Regions from separate parts of the Homo sapiens genome. Here region 1 is linked to region 2. Evidence: fine-mapped expression QTL. Tissue or cell type: monocytes. Region 2 holds a variant in brackets; the other region holds the start of a gene. All regions are shown on one strand. Distances are between the middles of the regions.

What was found. PIP is the estimated chance that this variant, and not a neighbour inherited with it, causes the effect.
Region 1: it holds the start of PNMA8B, and the variant in region 2 is fine-mapped to the expression of PNMA8B in monocytes (TOPMed, PIP 0.97).

What each region holds. Positions count from the first base shown.
Region 1 is chr19:46,491,793-46,499,885 of GRCh38, forward strand. PNMA8B (PNMA family member 8B) reads right to left here and starts at 4,075. Exons shown (of 1, transcript NM_020709.3): 1 at 1-4,075. The coding sequence starts at 3,673. The coding sequence ends at 1,766.
Region 2 is chr19:46,432,307-46,440,408 of GRCh38, forward strand. No RefSeq gene overlaps it. Among named protein-coding and RNA genes, the nearest start is that of PNMA8C, 7.4 kb to the left of the region's middle. RefSeq lists a silencer at 2,072-2,272. The variant A/G (reference allele first, on the strand shown) is at 5,031.

The DNA.
Region 1 (8,093 bases), 59 kb after region 2:
GCCCACGCTCCCACACCCCGCCTGCCCCACTGCCCAGAGCACAGAGAGAGTACAGTGCTGAATTTCACTTTACTGGAGGATCCAGGTGACACAGGGCACAGGGAGAGAAGCCTAGGACTGCTACGGGAGAAGCACACCTGGGGCCCTCCCCACCCACAGGCAACACCACAGGCTGCTGTGCCCAGCTCAAGGTACACCCAGCCTGGTCCTCAGTGGGTGGGTCACTGTCCAGGGACAGCCTCCAAGCAGAGGGGAGCACCCACGCCCTGCAGCAGGTCTCAGTCAGCTTCTACATCTGGGTGTCCCTGACATAGGACTGGGACAGTCTGGTCTGGACTGTGAGGTCACACCCAAACCCTCCTATTCCTTCCCAGGGACAAGTGGGGCAGGGCCCCCTGGCACGATGGGCTCCTCACTGCCAGGGAATGGAAATTGGGACGAGGAAGCACACACATTGCCCCAGGGACAAGAAGGCATGAATGAAGGTGGGGTCCCGTGGAGACTGATATTTAGGTAAAAATCGAGCTCAGCCGGGGTTGCAGGAGCTGAAGCATACGGCACGGCACGGCACAGACTCACATACAACTCAAGCGTGCTTGGGACAGCAGGTTGTGAAGCCTCACAGCACCGGCCCGCCTACTCTGGAACCTCCAGGGCAGGGCTGGGGTTTCCTCCCCAGGTCATTTCATCCCCTGTAAGGAGGGACACGCGGCCGGCTTCTGCACTGCCCAGGTGAGCCTCTGTCCCTCACAGTGCCCTTCGGGGCCCCTCTGGCCTTTAATTCACTCAGGGGGTGAACCCAGGGACTTTCAAGTCTTTTAGTAAGGGCTGCAAGGCCAGCGCTGAGCGGTGGGTCAGCTCCACTGGAGAGGGGGCACCCAGGGGAGCCACAGCCTATGGGAGGGGCCAGGGCCCACTCAGCCCAGAAGAACCAAAACTGGATTTTAAGTGAATTACCCCAAATTGAACACCTCTGCAAATAATTAGAATGTTGGGAAACACTGCAGTCTGAGTGACAAATTCAACTTGTGGTCAGGGGCAGGTGGCCTTGGCCTGGGGCTGGTTCCTTTGTTATCAGGGGCGCCCCAGTAGGCAGGGCTGGCATGTGTCTTCCCTCTGCTCCCCCCTCCCCCTCCTCCTCCTCTTTCCCTTCTCCCACCGTTCCTCTCCCCTTTCCTCCTCCTCCCCTTCCCAACCGCCTTCTATCTCTCAGACTTTCCTTTCTGGAATCATCTCTTCCCCTGGCTGGGAGCTGGGGCCTCCCCTGGCTGAGAGTTGCGCCCTGACACGCGCTGCGCGGCTGGTGACTGAGCCTCCACCACAGACCCAGGGCCCAGTCAGACTGGGGTAGGGGCGACAGCGGCCTACAGCACCTGCCAGGCGCAGGCCCCGAGAGCGCCACGAAGAGCCCTGCTCGCCTCTGCAGGTGCCCGGCGTCCACACACACACCCCCTCCGGGGGCAACCCGGGCCCCCAATCCTGGTCCACTTGGCGCGTCCCCATCTCGGCCCTGCGCTGCTGCCTCGGGCGCCCACTTCTCTTTCCTCCTCCCATCCGGGCTTCCTCCGTCGGGATCGCTGGCGCCCCCGGCCTGCGAGGGCCCGAGAGGGGAACGTGACGCTGGCAAAACGCGGCCCGGGCGCGCTGTGAAGCGAGGAGATTGCGTCTGCGGAGGACAGGAAGAGGGGAGGGGAGGGCGGGGGCCACAGGCGGGCGGGTGCCCTGCGGGGCCTGCTCGCAGCCTGGGCGGCTTCTTGGGGGGCCACTAGCGGCATTTAGGGGGCAGCCTCCGGCCCCGACGGGCCTTCTTCCCGCGCGCGGCCTTGGATCCAGTGGGCGCCTGGCCCTTGGCCTCGCCTGCCCTGGCATGGGCCCCGGCGCCCGCGCTCCCCTTCTTCTTCCTGCTTCCTGCGGCGTCGTCCTGGGCCGAGCCCCGGCTCCCGGCTTTCTTCTCGGGAGTGACGCCCCGGCCTCGGCCTCGGCCGCCCGCGCGGGTTTTGCGGGCCCCGGAAGCGGTGGGAGGCGCGCCGGCCGGAGTCAGGCCCCTGGGGGCCGTGCGCGCCCTCTTGGCCCGGGGCTTCCTGGATGCCCTGTCCTCCGGCTCCGACGCCTCGCTCTCGGTGTCCTCCGACTCCTCCTCGGACTGTTCGTCCGAAGCCTCCTCCGACCCCTCGTTGGACCCCATGTTCTCCCGGGCGGCCAGGAGCGCCAATACCTCCCCCAGTTTGCCTTTGGGGTATTTGTACTTCCCGCCTTCCCAGGCGTTTTCTTTTTCCTCCTTCATCACCTCCGCCATGTCCTGGGCAGCCAGGAGCGCCACCAGCTCCAGAAGACCCCCTTCGTCCTCACGGTGCTCGCTCCAGCCCCCGAAGAGGCCACGCCCAGCCTTCTTCGCCTGGGGAGGGAGATCCGGCTGCGCCAAGGTGGAAATGCACTCCCGGAGGTCCCCGTCATCCCCGGCCTTGCGCAGGACCACGGCGTCCACCTCGCGGCCCGCCTCTTCCACCTTCACGCGGGTCCCGTTAGTGTCCTTGGACATGACGGACAAGACCTGTCGGAGGGGGTCTCGCTTGTCTTTCTCGTCGCTCCAGCCCAGCGACTCGATAACAGAAGCGATTTTCAACATCTCCTCCCGGGCCCAGGGGTCCGACGGGTCGGTATAGGCCACAATGGCCACGAACTCAGGATTATCCAACTCCTCTGTTTCTTGGTCCCCACTTTCCTGCGAGTCGCTCTCCGAAGTGTCGCTGTCCACCGGCTCCTCGTCCGGGGTGTCTCTCACAGCCAGCAGGGCCACTAAGTCGGGGACACCATTTTTGTCTTCTTTGGTGTTCAAGCGGATGGATTCGGCCCCAGCTGGCTCCTTCTCTGCCTCTTCTTTCTTCGATTTGTCGGTGACGGTGACCAGAGCCAAGAACTCGCGGGGACCGTCTTCTTCCCCCTCGGAGTTGCAGGGCGCCCACTGCCTAACCAGCTCCCTGGCAGCGGCCTGCAGCGTGGCGTACAGCGCGCTCTGGTCCTCTTCTCCGCTCAGGTCGCCCTGGTCGATCTCCTCGATCACGATGCCCAGGCTCTCGTCGGAAGAGTCCTCGGCCTCACTCCTCGCGGGAGCAGACGGCCGTCCTCCTCGGCTTCTCTTCTTGCCCTTCTGGGTCAACCTGTTGCGTCTGGTTCTGTTTCTGCGACCCCGACGGCCCCTCCTTGGGTTCCTGGCTGCCCCAAGAAGCGAGCCAGCCTGCCCTGTTACCTCCCCAGAATCCTGGGCCTGCGTCTCCGAAGCGGGAGGGGTGGGTGCCTCCCCGGGGGTCCCAGCCTCCGCGGCCTGCGTGGGCCCGTCATCCAGCAGCAGGCGTCTCATCTGCCTCAGGACCCTCGTGTCCTGCGCACGGTCCTTCCACAGAACCCTCCAGACCCCATCCTTGCCTGGGATCTCCCTGGGAATGGCAGCGTGATTGACGTCCTCCACAAACTCCACCAGGGCGGCCTGGGCCTTCTCGTTCATCAAAGCCTTCATGTGTCGCAACCTGAACGTGCCCAGGGGCAGGAGGGTCGGCTGCAGGACGGCTTCGACGTCTGCCTGCTCCAGGCCCTCCGGGATGCCGGTGACCAGCAGGGCCCTGTGCGCGTCCACGTCCAGGCTCCGGCACCAGTCCTGCAAAAGGCTCATGGCCATGGTGCAGCCCCCTTGGCGCTGATCTTGGGGCAGCAGGGAGCCCGAGATAGGGGTGGGCTGCAGCGCACGGTGTCAATGCAACCCTAGAAAGCCACTTGCAGGGCTTAGAGTCCCGGTTCCGGTGAATGTGGCAAGGCTGGAGTGGGGCTCGGGGCTCGGGGGCTCTAGCTGCCTGCTGGCCGGCTGGACGCAGTGACCTTCCCCCGGGACCCCTCTCCAGAGCTGTCTGAGGATCCGCGGGGGGCTTACGTGTCTGCTTTCCAGGACAGCTCCCTCCCTCTCTCCCTGACACAGGCCTGAGTGACTCGGCACCGCAGCCAGGTGCAGGGGGGCGGCGCCGAGTGCACCTGGAGAGGCGTGGGAGGTAGCAGCCGCAGCTTGCCTGGCGCTCGCGCCGCGTCTGAGCGCGCACCCTGGGCCTGAATCTCAGCAGTTCCGCTGCGACGCGGCTGCTCGCGCGTGCGCCTGCGCAGAGGGAGCCGCACACCCTCCCCTGTCCCCCGCCCAACCGTCTCCATGGCAACGGTGCAGCCTTGAGCTGGGGTCTGCGTCGCTGTGGCCTGAGACGCTTTTCTTAAAGGTCCCGATGACAAGGACTTGGGGCCTGGAAGCACCACTTTCATTAACCAGCAAAAAACAAGGCCGAAACCACAGAGGGCCAGAAATCACTCAAGGATACCCGACCTCATTCAGGGGATAGAGGCCTCCTTCCAGAGGGTACCGGCATCACTGGGGGTTACAATTCCCCCTTCCAGGGGCCAGGTGGAATTCAGGATTATATAGGCCTAAATCAAAGGGCACTGGCCTTGCAGCGTAGGACCAGGACTTACTCGGGATACTGGCCTCATTCACAGTATATGGGTCTCAGTATCAAATAGGGGGGCCCAGGCACCACCTGTGAGCAAGACACCATTCAGGGTATATGGGCCTCACTTGCAGGGTACAGGCCCCACTCGATGGGACCGGCCCTCACTCCCATACACGTTCCTGTATTCTGAACTATGCATGCACAATAAATCCTGTGGTTTTGCACACGCTTTGAGCATATGTATGATTGTGAGACCAGGCATGAATTTTGCAAGAAAGCATTTCCCTTGACTGGGACAGCAGACTGGGGCGTGTGAACGTCAGTCATAGCTACTGTAAACATGCATTTGCTTCTCTGTCCCTTGTTGGCCATGAGGCTGTCCCCTACTCTATATGAATCTGGCTCTGTAGACCAGCTGGTAGGTTTATATCTCAACCATCATCCCTACCTCAAAGGGTTTTGTTTTTTTGTTGTTGTTTGTTTTGGAGATGGAGTCTTGCTCTGTCACTCAGGCTGGAGTGCAATGGCACAATCTTGGTTCACTGCAACTTCCGCCTCCCATGTTCAAGCGGTTCTCCTGCCTCAGCCTCCTGAGTAGCAAGGATGACAGGCCTCCCAAGTAGCTGGGATTATAGGCATACACCATCACGTCTGGCAAGTTTTTGTATTTTTTGTAGAGATGGGTTTTTACCATGTTACCCAGGCTGGTCTCAAACTCCTAACCTCAAGTGATCTGCCCGCCTCAGCCTCTGAAAGTGCTGGGATTACAGGATTACATGGTGAGCCACCATGCCTGGCCTCAAAGGGTTCTCATGAGGATTAAAGGGAATAATCCAGGAAAGCATTTAGAAGAGCAGCTGGCCCACAGCTGGTGCTCCATGAAAGATGGCTAAGAGAAGTATTTGTTGAGAACTTACCATTATAAAAGCATCTGTTTTGTTGGTTTGTTTTTGAGATGGAGTCTTGCTCTGTCGCCCAGGCTGGAGTGCAATGGAGCAATCTCGGCTCACTGCAACCTCCACCACCCGGGTTAAAGCCATTCTCCTGCCTCAGCCTCCCGAGTAACTGGGACTACAGGCATGCACCACCATGCCTGACTAGTTTTTTGTTTGTTTGTTTGTTTGAGAGAGAGTCTCGCACTGTCACTCAGGCTGGAGGGCAGTGGCGTGATCTTGGTTCACTGCAACCTCCGCCTCCCGGCTTCAAACCATTCTCCAGCCTCAGCCTCCCAAGTAGCTGAGATTACAGGTGCCCGCCACCACGCCCAGCTAATTTTTTGTATTTTTAGTAGAGACGGGGTTTCACTATGTTGGGCAACCTTGTCTCAAACTCCCAACCTCGTGATCCGCCCGCCTCGGCCTCCCAAAGTGCTGGGATTACAGGTGTGAGCCACCGTGCCCGGCCTAGTTTTGTATTTTTAGTAGATGGATTTTCACCATGTTGGCCAGGCTGGTCTGGAACTCCTGACCTCGGGTGATCTGCCGGCGTCGGCCTCCCAAAGTGCTGGGATTACAGGCACGAGCCACCGTGCTCAGCCCAAAGCATCTGTTAATAAACAAATAAATAGGAAACCAAAACACCTCGAGTTTTTTGTTTTTGCCACCAGGCCCAACCCCTTACTTTTGTGTTTGGATTTTTTTATGTTTAAGGAGAGTTTAACTGCAAGGTTACCACAGCAACTGGGCAAACCGCTTACTCACTCCTATTTTCCCCCACTTTTTCCTCCTCTGATCTTCCTGATCCACAGATGGATGTGATGTGACTCTTTTCTCCAGAGCAGCGTTGTCCAGCAGGAATAGAATGCCAGCCCCAAATTCGAACCGCACGTGCAATGTTAAAACTCCTAGTTGCAGCCAGCCAACACTGACCTCAGGTGGTCCACCCACCTCAGCCTCCCAAAGTGCTGGGATTACAAAGTGTCATTTTTGACATTTGAATCTCCAATCTAGGCTGGGCATGGTAGCGCACGCCTGTAATCCCAGCTACTTGGAGGCTGAGGCAGGAGAATCACATGAACCTGGGAGGCAGAGGTTGTTGCATTGAGCCGAGATTGCGCCACTGCACTCCAGCCTGGGAGACAGAGCAAGACGCTGTCTCAAAAAAACCAAACCAAACCAAACCAAACCAAACCAAAACAAAACAAAAAACGAGCTGCTTTTTCTGCATCTATTGATCTAAAAAAAGAAGAAATATGGTGACTCACCATGTAATCCTGTAATCCCAGCACTTTCAGAGGCTGAGGCGGGCAGATCACTTGAGGTTAGGAGTTCGAGACCAGCCCGGGCAACATGGTGAAAACCTATCTCTACAAAAAATACAAAATTTCCTAGGGGGCCACCTTCAATAAATAGAAAAGAGGGAAGAAAAATGAATTTTAAGAATAGATTTTGGCCAGGCGCAGTGGCTCACGCCTGTAATCCCAGCACTTTGGGAGGCCGAGGCAGGCAGATCACTTGAGCCCAGGAGTTTGAGACCGGCCTGGCCAACATGGCAAAACCTCGTCTCTACAAAAAATACAAAAGTTAGCCAGGCTTAGTGACACACATCTGTAGTCCCTGATACTCAGGAAGCTGAGGTAGGAGGATTGCTTCAGCCCAGGAGATCAAGGCTGAAGTGAGAGATGATCATGCTACACTGCACTCCAGCTTGGGCAAGAGAATGACCCTGTCTCAAAAAAAAAAAAAAAAAAAAAAAAAAAAAAAAAAAAAAAAAGGAAAAGGAAAAAGAAAAAGAAAATAAAGAATATATATTATTTATCCCGAAATATACAAAGTGTTGTCATTTGCACAAGTTGTCAATGTAAAACAATTATTTATGAGCTATCAGACACTCTCTTTTCATAATGAGTCCCTTTGGAGTAGCCGTATTTCAAGGGCTCAGCAGCCACACAGGGCCATTGGGAATTTGTTTGCAAGAATTAATTAGGGGGAGAGAGAGAGAGAGAGAGAGTGTGTGTGTGTGTGAATACACTCAGCACAACTGTTATTTATAACTGCAAGATTGGAAAACACAACAAAAAGAGAAACAGGAAGCTTGCACTTTGTGTGTGTGTGTGTGTGTGTGTGTGTGTGTATTTTAGAGTCAGAGTCTTGCTGTCTCCCAGGCTAGAGTGCAGTGGCATGACCATGGCTCACTGCAGTCTTGAACTCCTGGCTTCAAGCACCTCTCCCACCTCAGCCTCCAGAGTAGCTGGAACTGCAGCACACCACCACGCCTGGCTAATTTTATTTTTTGTAGAGATGGGGTCTTGTTATGTTGCCCAGGCTGGTCTCAAACTCCTGGGCTCAAGTGATCCTCCTTCCTTGGCCTCCCAAAATGCAGGGATTGCAGGCGTGAGCCATCATGCCCGATGAAGCTGACACTTTTCTAAGTCGTTGTGGATAACCACAGGTGAAATTCTTGTAAAAATGAAGATTCATATACCATATAACCCACCCATTTAAAGTGCACAACTCAATGGCTGTTAGTTCATTCAGAGTTGTGTGACCAACACCACGATTGATTTTAAAACATTTTCATCACCTCAAAAAGAAATCCCACACTGCTTAGCCATCACCCTCCAACCCTCTAATCTCCCCCCAGCCCCCGGCAACCACTAATCTGCTTTCTGTC
Region 2 (8,102 bases):
CCTCAGCCTCCTGAGTAGCTGGGATTACAGGCACCCGCCATCATGCCCAGCTAATTTTTGTATTTTCATAGAGATGGGGTTTCACCATGTTGGCCAGGCTGGTCTCGAACTCCTGACTTCAAATGATCCGCCTGCCTCAATCTCCAAAAATGCTGGGATTGCAGGAGTGAGCCACCGCACCTGGCCTAGATTGTTCTTGTAGGTTCCAATTTGTCCTCTCTGTCCCGGTTCAGTTTCTAAATTGCCCAGCAGACTGGCCTACAGAGACTTAAAACCCAATACTAGTCACAGAAAAAAAAACTTTGATACACCCCTCCTCCAGCAACCCTAGCGCTCCCTGGTTAGTAATTTTTTTTTTTTTTTTTTTTTTTTGGAGATAAGGGTCTCTCTATGTTGCCCAGGCTGGTATCAAACTCCTGAGTTCAAGTGATTCTCCCACCTCGGCCTCCCAAAGTGTTGGGATTACAGGCCTGAGCCACCACGCCCAGCCTCAGTAACTTTTAAACAAGATCTCGCCATCCCTATATTATTATTATTATTTTGCCATCACGAATATAGTTTATTTTTAAATTTTTAATTTTTAATTGTGCGGGTACATGGTAGCTGTATATATGTATGGGGTTCACAAGATATTTGATACAGGCATGCAATGAGAAATAATCACATTGTGGAGAATGAAGTCGCCATCCCCTTAAGAACTTATCCTTTGTGTGACAAACAATCCAATTACATTCATTTAGCTATTTTGAAATGTACTATTATTATTAACAATAGTCATCCTGTTGTGCTATCAAATAGTATGTCTTATTCATTCTTTCTATTTGTGTTGAGTATTGTACCCATTAACCATCCCCACCTCCCCCATCCATCCCGCCGACGACCCTTCCCAGCCTCTGGTAACCTTCTGTCTATATGTTAAAAAAAAAAAAAAAACTGCTTTTTTTGTTTTGTTTTGTTTCGAGATGGAGTCTCACTCTGTCGCCCAGGCTGGAGTGTAATGGTGCGATCTTGGCTCACTGCAACCTCTGCCTCCCAGGTTCAAGTGATTCTCATGCCTCAGCCTCCCTAGCAGCTGAGATTACAGGCACGCGCCACCACGCCTGGCTAATTTTTGTATTAGTAGAGATGGGGTTTCACCATGTCAGCCAGGCTGGTCTGGAACTCCTGACCTCAAGTGATCCACCCGCCTCGGCCTCCCAGAGTGCTGGGATTACAGGCGTGAGCCAACATGCCTGTCCTCGTTCAATTGTTTTGATTATTTTAATTCCCACAAATAAATGAGAACATGCCGTTTGTCTTTCTGTGCCTGGCTTATTTCACTTAACATAATGACCTCCAGTTCCATCCACGTTTTTGCAAATGGCAGGATCTCATTCTTTTTCATGGCTGAATAGTACTCCATTGTGTATAAGCACCACATTTTCTGTATCCATTCTTCTGTTGATGGACACTCAGGTTGTTTCCAAATCTTCACTGTCGTGGACAGTGCTGCAAAAAATATGGGAGTGCAGAGATCTCCTTAATCTACTGATTTCCTTTCTTTTGGGTATATACCCAGCAGTGGGATGGCAGGATCAATTTTTAGCTTAATTTTTAGTTTTGAGGAACCTCCAATTTACATTCCCACCAACAGAGTATGAGGGTTCCCTTTTCTCCACCAGCATTTGTTCTTTGCTGTCTTTTGGATATAAGCTTTTTTTTTTTTTTTTGAGACGGAGTTTCACTCTTGTTGCCCAGGCTGGAGTGCAATGGTGCAATCTCGGCTCACTGCAACCTCCGCCTCTCAGGTTCAAGCAATTCTCCTGCCTCAGCCTCATGAGTAGCTGGGATTACAGGCATGCTCCACCACGCCTGGCTAATTTTTTGTATTTTTGGTAGAGACAGCGTTTCTCCATGTTGGTCAGGCTGGTCGTGAACTCCCGACCCCAGGTGATCTGCCCGCCTCAGCCTCCCAAAGTGCTGGGATTACAGGCGTGAGCAATTGCATCTGGCCAGATATAAGCTATTTTAACTGGGGTGAGATGGATATCTTTATCTTATTTTAGTTTTGACCACCATCCCTTTCTGGGTCCTCACCTCCCCAGATTCACCCCCAATTGTCTAAGATCCAATCACATAATGTTTCTTATCCCACGTGGCTCATAGCAGACCTCCTTCTGCTTAACACGGACCAATCCTGAACAACCATGACTCTTCCTTTATAAACATCAGTTGCACTAACATACTACTTTTCAGGTTTTCCAGTAGAGAGAAAACAAGGGAAGTGTGCCCTCTCATTTAGGGGTTTTAGGAACCAGCTCTTCCACAGAGATTTCTTTTAAGTCTAATTTTGTCATAAAAAATTTTGCATTCGAGCCGGGCGTGGTGACTCACACCTGTAATCCCAGCACTTTGGGAGGCTGAGGCGGGTGGATTACCTGAGGTCAGGAGTTCGAGACCAGCCTGGCCAACATGACAAAACCCCATCTCTGGTAAAAATACAAAAATTAGCCGGGTGTGTTGGCACACACCAGTAATCCCAGCTACTTGGGAGACTGAGGCAGGAGAATCACTTGAACCTGGCAGGTGGAGATTGCAGTGAGCCAAGATTGCGCCACTGCACTCCAGCCTGGGTGACAGAGTGAGACTCTGTCTCAAAAAAAAAAAAAAAAAAAAAATTCACATTCGACTCCATGACATGACCATTTTAATACAAAGATGAGTTTTCCTTCCAAAGATGAAGTAAAATTGTTGATCCAAAATATTTGCCACGAGTTTATGAATCCTTGACACGCCATTGCATATCCCTGGGCTTATGCATGTTCCCAATTGAGAAGCAAGGGAAGAGAATGGTTCATTTATTTGATCCACCAGGATTTACTGAGAAGTGTCCTTGTTCTAGGCTTGGGTAACGTGCTGGGCATACTTGAGTGAGGGAGACAGGCTCTGCTTTGAGGAGCTCAGTCCAGTGGTTACGACAGGCTGGCTCAGTCTGTTTACAGGCAGGGAGAGAAGCCCTATAATTACTACGATGTGTTCCGATCCTGGTGTGGGGTGTAGAATACAGAATATATCAAGTGGGCTTAGTTTTCCTGGAACATGTTTTGCTAGAGTTTAAAGAGAGAACCGCATAAAGTCCTTTGGCGGCCCTGAGATACCTGACTGACATAATTACTGTATCAGTAACCTTTTTATTAATTCACTCTTCAACGTCTCTGATTAATTCTCCATAAAGGAATTCATCTGTCTGGTCTCATCTGGGAAGGCTTCCCGCAGGAGGTGACATTTGAGAGAAATCTTGATGGATGCATATAATAACCACAAATAATACTATTTTAAAAAGTAATAACTGCTAACTTTTGCATAGGGCATACTAAAATATTCTAAGCCTTCTATGTGTACTAAGTCATCTAATTTTTACAACAGTCCATGAGTTAGATGTTTTATTGATTCAATCATTTATTCATTCAACAAGTATTTATTGAATAGTTCCTGTATCTTATAGTCAGGAAAACTGAGGACCAGAGAGGTTAAATCACTTACCTGGGGCCACACAGCTAGTGAGATTTTTTTTTTTTGAGATAGGGTCTTGCTCTGTTGCCCAGGCCGGAATGCAGTGGCGCAATCATGGCTCACTGCAGCCTCAACCTCCCAGGCTCAAGCAATCTTCCCACCTCAGCCTCCTGAGTAACCGAGACTATAGGCGCATGCCACCACACCTAGCTAACTTAATTTTTTTTTTTTTTTTTTTTTGTAGAGACAGAGTCTCACTATGTTGCCCAGGCTGGTCTCAAACTCCTGAGCTCAAGCAATCCTCCTGGCTCAGTCTCCCAAAGTGCTGGGATTACAGGTATGAGCCATTATGCCTGGCCAAATGAGTTTTGTTTTTTTTTTTTGGGGGGACGAACTCTCGCTCTGTGGCCCAGCCTGGAGTGCAGTGGCGCGATCTTGGCTCACTGCAACTTCCGCCTCCCGGGTTCACTCCATTCTCCTGCCTCAGCCTCCCGAGTAGCGGGGACTACAGGTGCCCGCCACCACGCCTGGCTAATTTTTTGTATTTTTTTTAGTAGAGACGGGGTTTCACCACGTTAGCCAGGACGGTCTCGATCTCCTAACCTCGTGATCCGCCCGCCTCAGCCTCCCAAAGTGCTGGGATTACAGGCGTGAGCCACCGCGCCTGGCCTTTTTTTTTTTTTTTTTTTTTTTTTTTTTTTTGAGACGGAGCCTCGCTCTGTCACCCAGGCTGGAGTGCAATGGCGGGATCTCAGCTCACTGCAACATCCGCCTCCCAGGTTCAAGTGATTCTCCTGCCTCAGCCTCCCGAGTAGCTGGAATTACAGGTCCCCACCATTACGCCCAGCTAATTTTTGTATTTTTGGTAGAGAGGGGGGTTTCTCCATGTTGGCCAGGCTGATCTCGAACTCCTGAGCTTAGGTGATCTGCCCACCTCGACCTCCCAAAGTGCTGGGATTACAGGCATGAGCTACCACGCCTGGCCGAGATTTTTACAATTTGATTTAGCTTAATTTTTTTCCATGAATTTTCTGTTTGTATCTTTTACCCATTTTTATTAAAAAATGGGGTTTCCTTTTTTGCTGAAGAGTAAAAAAGCTTTACAGATAAAGGAAATTAGCATATTATCACACCACATGTAATAGCTTAGTTACTTGTTTTTTGTTGGTGGCTTTTTTTTTTTTTGAGATGCAGTCTCATTCTGTCACCCAGGCTACAGTGCAGTGGCCGATCTCAGCTCACTGCAAGCTCCGCCTCTCAGGTTCATGCCATTCTCCTGCCTCAGCCTCCCAAGTAGCTGGGACTACAGGCGCCTGCCACCACGCCTGGCTAATTTTTTGTATTTTTAGTAGAGACGGGGTTTCACCATGTTAGCCAAGGTGGTCTCGATCTCCTGACCTCTTGATCTGCCTGCCTCAGCCTCCCAAAGTGCTGGGATCACAGGCGTGAGCCACCGCGCCTGGACGATGGAGTTTTTTTTTTTTTTTAAATAATCTATATATATATATTTATTATTATTATTTTATTTTTGAGATGGA[A/G]TCTCACTTTATTGCCCAGGCTGGAGGGCAGTGGTGTGATCTCGGCTCAATGCAACCTCCGCTTCCCAGGTTCAAGCGATTCTCCTGCCTCAGTCTCCTGAGTAGATGGTATTACAGGCGTGAGCCACCACGCCTGGCTATTTTCTTCGTATTTTTAGTAGAGTCAAGGTTTCACTATGTTGGCCAGGCTGGTCTTGAACTCCTGACCTCAAGTGATCCACTTGCCTCAGCCTCCCAAAGTGCTGGGATTGCAGGCGTGACCCACCGCGCCCGGCCTTGGCTAAGTTACTTGTTGGTTAGAGTCTAGGTTCTGGGGATAGAGCAATGAATGAGATGGACAAAATCCCCTGATTTCCAAAAGCTGACACTGTATTGGGCCGACAGAGCAGGGACAAATAAATAAGATATATAATATGTCATGTGGTGATCAGGATTGGTTACGGGGAAAAATAAAGCAGGAAAGACAGAGAAGGGCCAGGACTCACGCCTGTAATCCCGCCACTTTAGGAGGCCAAGGCAGGAGGACTACTTGAGCCCAGGAGTTTGAGACCAGCCTGGGCAACAAAGTGAGACCCCAGGCTGCAGTGAGCTATGATGATACCACTGCACTCCAGCCTGGGAGACAGAGTGAGATCCCATCTCAAAAGAAAAAATTAAATTAAAAAGACAGACAGAGGGCCGGGCATGGTGGCTCACGCCTGTAATCCCAGCACTTTGAGAGGCCGAGGTGGGCGGATCACGAGATCAAGAGATGGAGACCATCCTGGCTAACACAGTGAAACCCCGTCTCCACTAAAAATACAAAAAATTAGCCGGGCATGGTGGCGGGCGCCTGAAGTCCCAGCTACTCGGGAGGCTGAGGCAGGAGAATGGCGTGAACCCGGGAGGCGGAGCTTGCAGTGAGCCGAGATCGCGCCACTGCACTCCAGCCTGGGCAACAGAGCGAGACTCTGTCTCAAAAAAAAAAAAAAAAAAAGAGAGAGACAGAGCGAGAGAGACAGGCATAGAGAGTGTGTATTGGGAGAGGATGTTATAATTTACAGTGTGCCAAGTAAAGGTTTCATGGAGGTGACATTTGGAGCAAAGACCTGAAGGAGGTGAGAGAGCCACCTTGTGAACATGTGAGGGAACTGTGTTCCAAGCAGAAGGAACAGTCAGTGCGGCCGGGCACGGCGGCTCACGCCTGTAATCCCAGCACTTTGGGAGGCCAAGGCGGGTGGATTGCCTGAGCTCAGGAGTTCAAGACTAGCTGGGCAACATGGTGAAATCCTGTCTCTACTAAAATACAAAAAATTAGCCGGGCGTGGTGGCGGGCGCTTGTAGTCCCAGCTACTCGGGAGGCTGAGGCAGGAGAATGGCTTGAACCTGGGAGGCGGAGCTTGCAGTGAGCCGAGATCCCGCCACTGCACTCCAGCCTGGGTGACAGAGCGAGACTTCTTCTCAAAAAAAAAAGAAAAAAAAAAAGTCAGTGCAAAGGCCCTGAGGCTGGAGCCTGCCTGGTGTACTTGAAGAACAGCAGAAACCCGTGGTGCCTGGCAGCAGAGGGAGCAAGGGAGTGTTGAGAAGAAAGCCCAAGAAAAAGCAGGCCGCGCAAGAGAGGAGGTGACAGCCAGATCTTACAAGACCTCAAAGCTCCTGGTGGGGACTTGGGACTTTTCTCTGGGTGAGATGGAACACCCAAGGTGGGGAGGTTTGATGAGGTAACTGAGGGCGTTATAGGAGTTTGCCAGTCAGGAATGATGTTGGAGTAGGAGGATGTAGGTTTCTGAGAGTTGAAAAGGAACAATTAATCCTTCACACAGCAAATGTATATATTTATACATTTAACTCTGGCTCTGTTCCAAACCTTGTGTTAACAGTGAGCCCAATAGCTATTAATACAAATAGAATGTAATGCCAGGAATTTAGCCACTCATAACTTACATGAGTTATGAACTTTTTTTTCTTTTTGAGACAGGGTCTCTCTCTGTCACCCAGGCTGGAGTGCAGTGGCGTCATCCTGGCTCACTGCAATCTCTGCCTCCCGGGTTCAAGCCATTCTCCTGCCTCAGCCTCCCAAGTAGCTGGGATTACAGGAGCACACCACCACACCCAGCTAATTTTTGTATTTTTAGTAGAGATGGGGGTCTCAACATGTTGCCCAGGCTGGTCACGAACTCCTGACCTCAGGTGATACACTTGCCTCGGCCTCTCAAAGTGCTGGGATTACAGGCGTGAGCCACCACGCCCTGCCTGAGGTGTCGTTTTTGACATTTAAATCTGCAATCTAGGCTGAGGATGGTGGCGCACGCCTGTAATCCCAGCTACTTGGGAGGCTGAGGCAGGAGAATCGCCTCCACCCAGGAGGTGGAGGTTGCAGTGAGCCGAGATGATGCCACTGCACTCCAGCCTAAGTGACAGAGTAAGACTCTCTCTCAAAAAAAATTAAAAAAAAAAAAAATAAATAAATAATAAATCTCCAATCTACCTCTAACTTTATACCTTTCCAGATGGCTATTGAGTGTCTTAGTTTTATGGAGAAAAGTCCATCTCGTTTTCAATGATATGAAATTCCACTGTTAAAATGTAAATTCCCAGCTGGGTATGGTGGCTCATGCCTGTAATCCCAGCACTTTGGGAGGCCAAGGCGGGTGGATTGCCTGAGCTCAGGAGTTCAAGACTAGCTGGGCAACATGGTGAAATCCTGTCTCTACTAAAATACAAAAAATTAGCCGGGCGTGGTGGCGGGCGCTTGTAGTCCCAGCTACTCGGGAGGCTGAGGCAGGAGAATGGCTTGAACCTGGGAGGCGGAGCTTGCAGTGAGCCGAGATCCCGCCACTGCACTCCAGCCTGGGTGACAGAGCGAGACTTCTTCTCAAAAAAAAAAGAAAAAAAAAAAGTCAGTGCAAAGGCCCTGAGGCTGGAGCCTGCCTGGTGTACTTGAAGAACAGCAGAAACCCGTGGTGCCTGGCAGCAGAGGGAGCAAGGGAGTGTTGAGAAGAAAGCCCAAGAAAAAGCAGGCCGCGCAAGAGAGGAGGTGACAGCCAGATCTTACAAGACCTCAAAGCTCCTGGTGGGGACTTGGGACTTTTC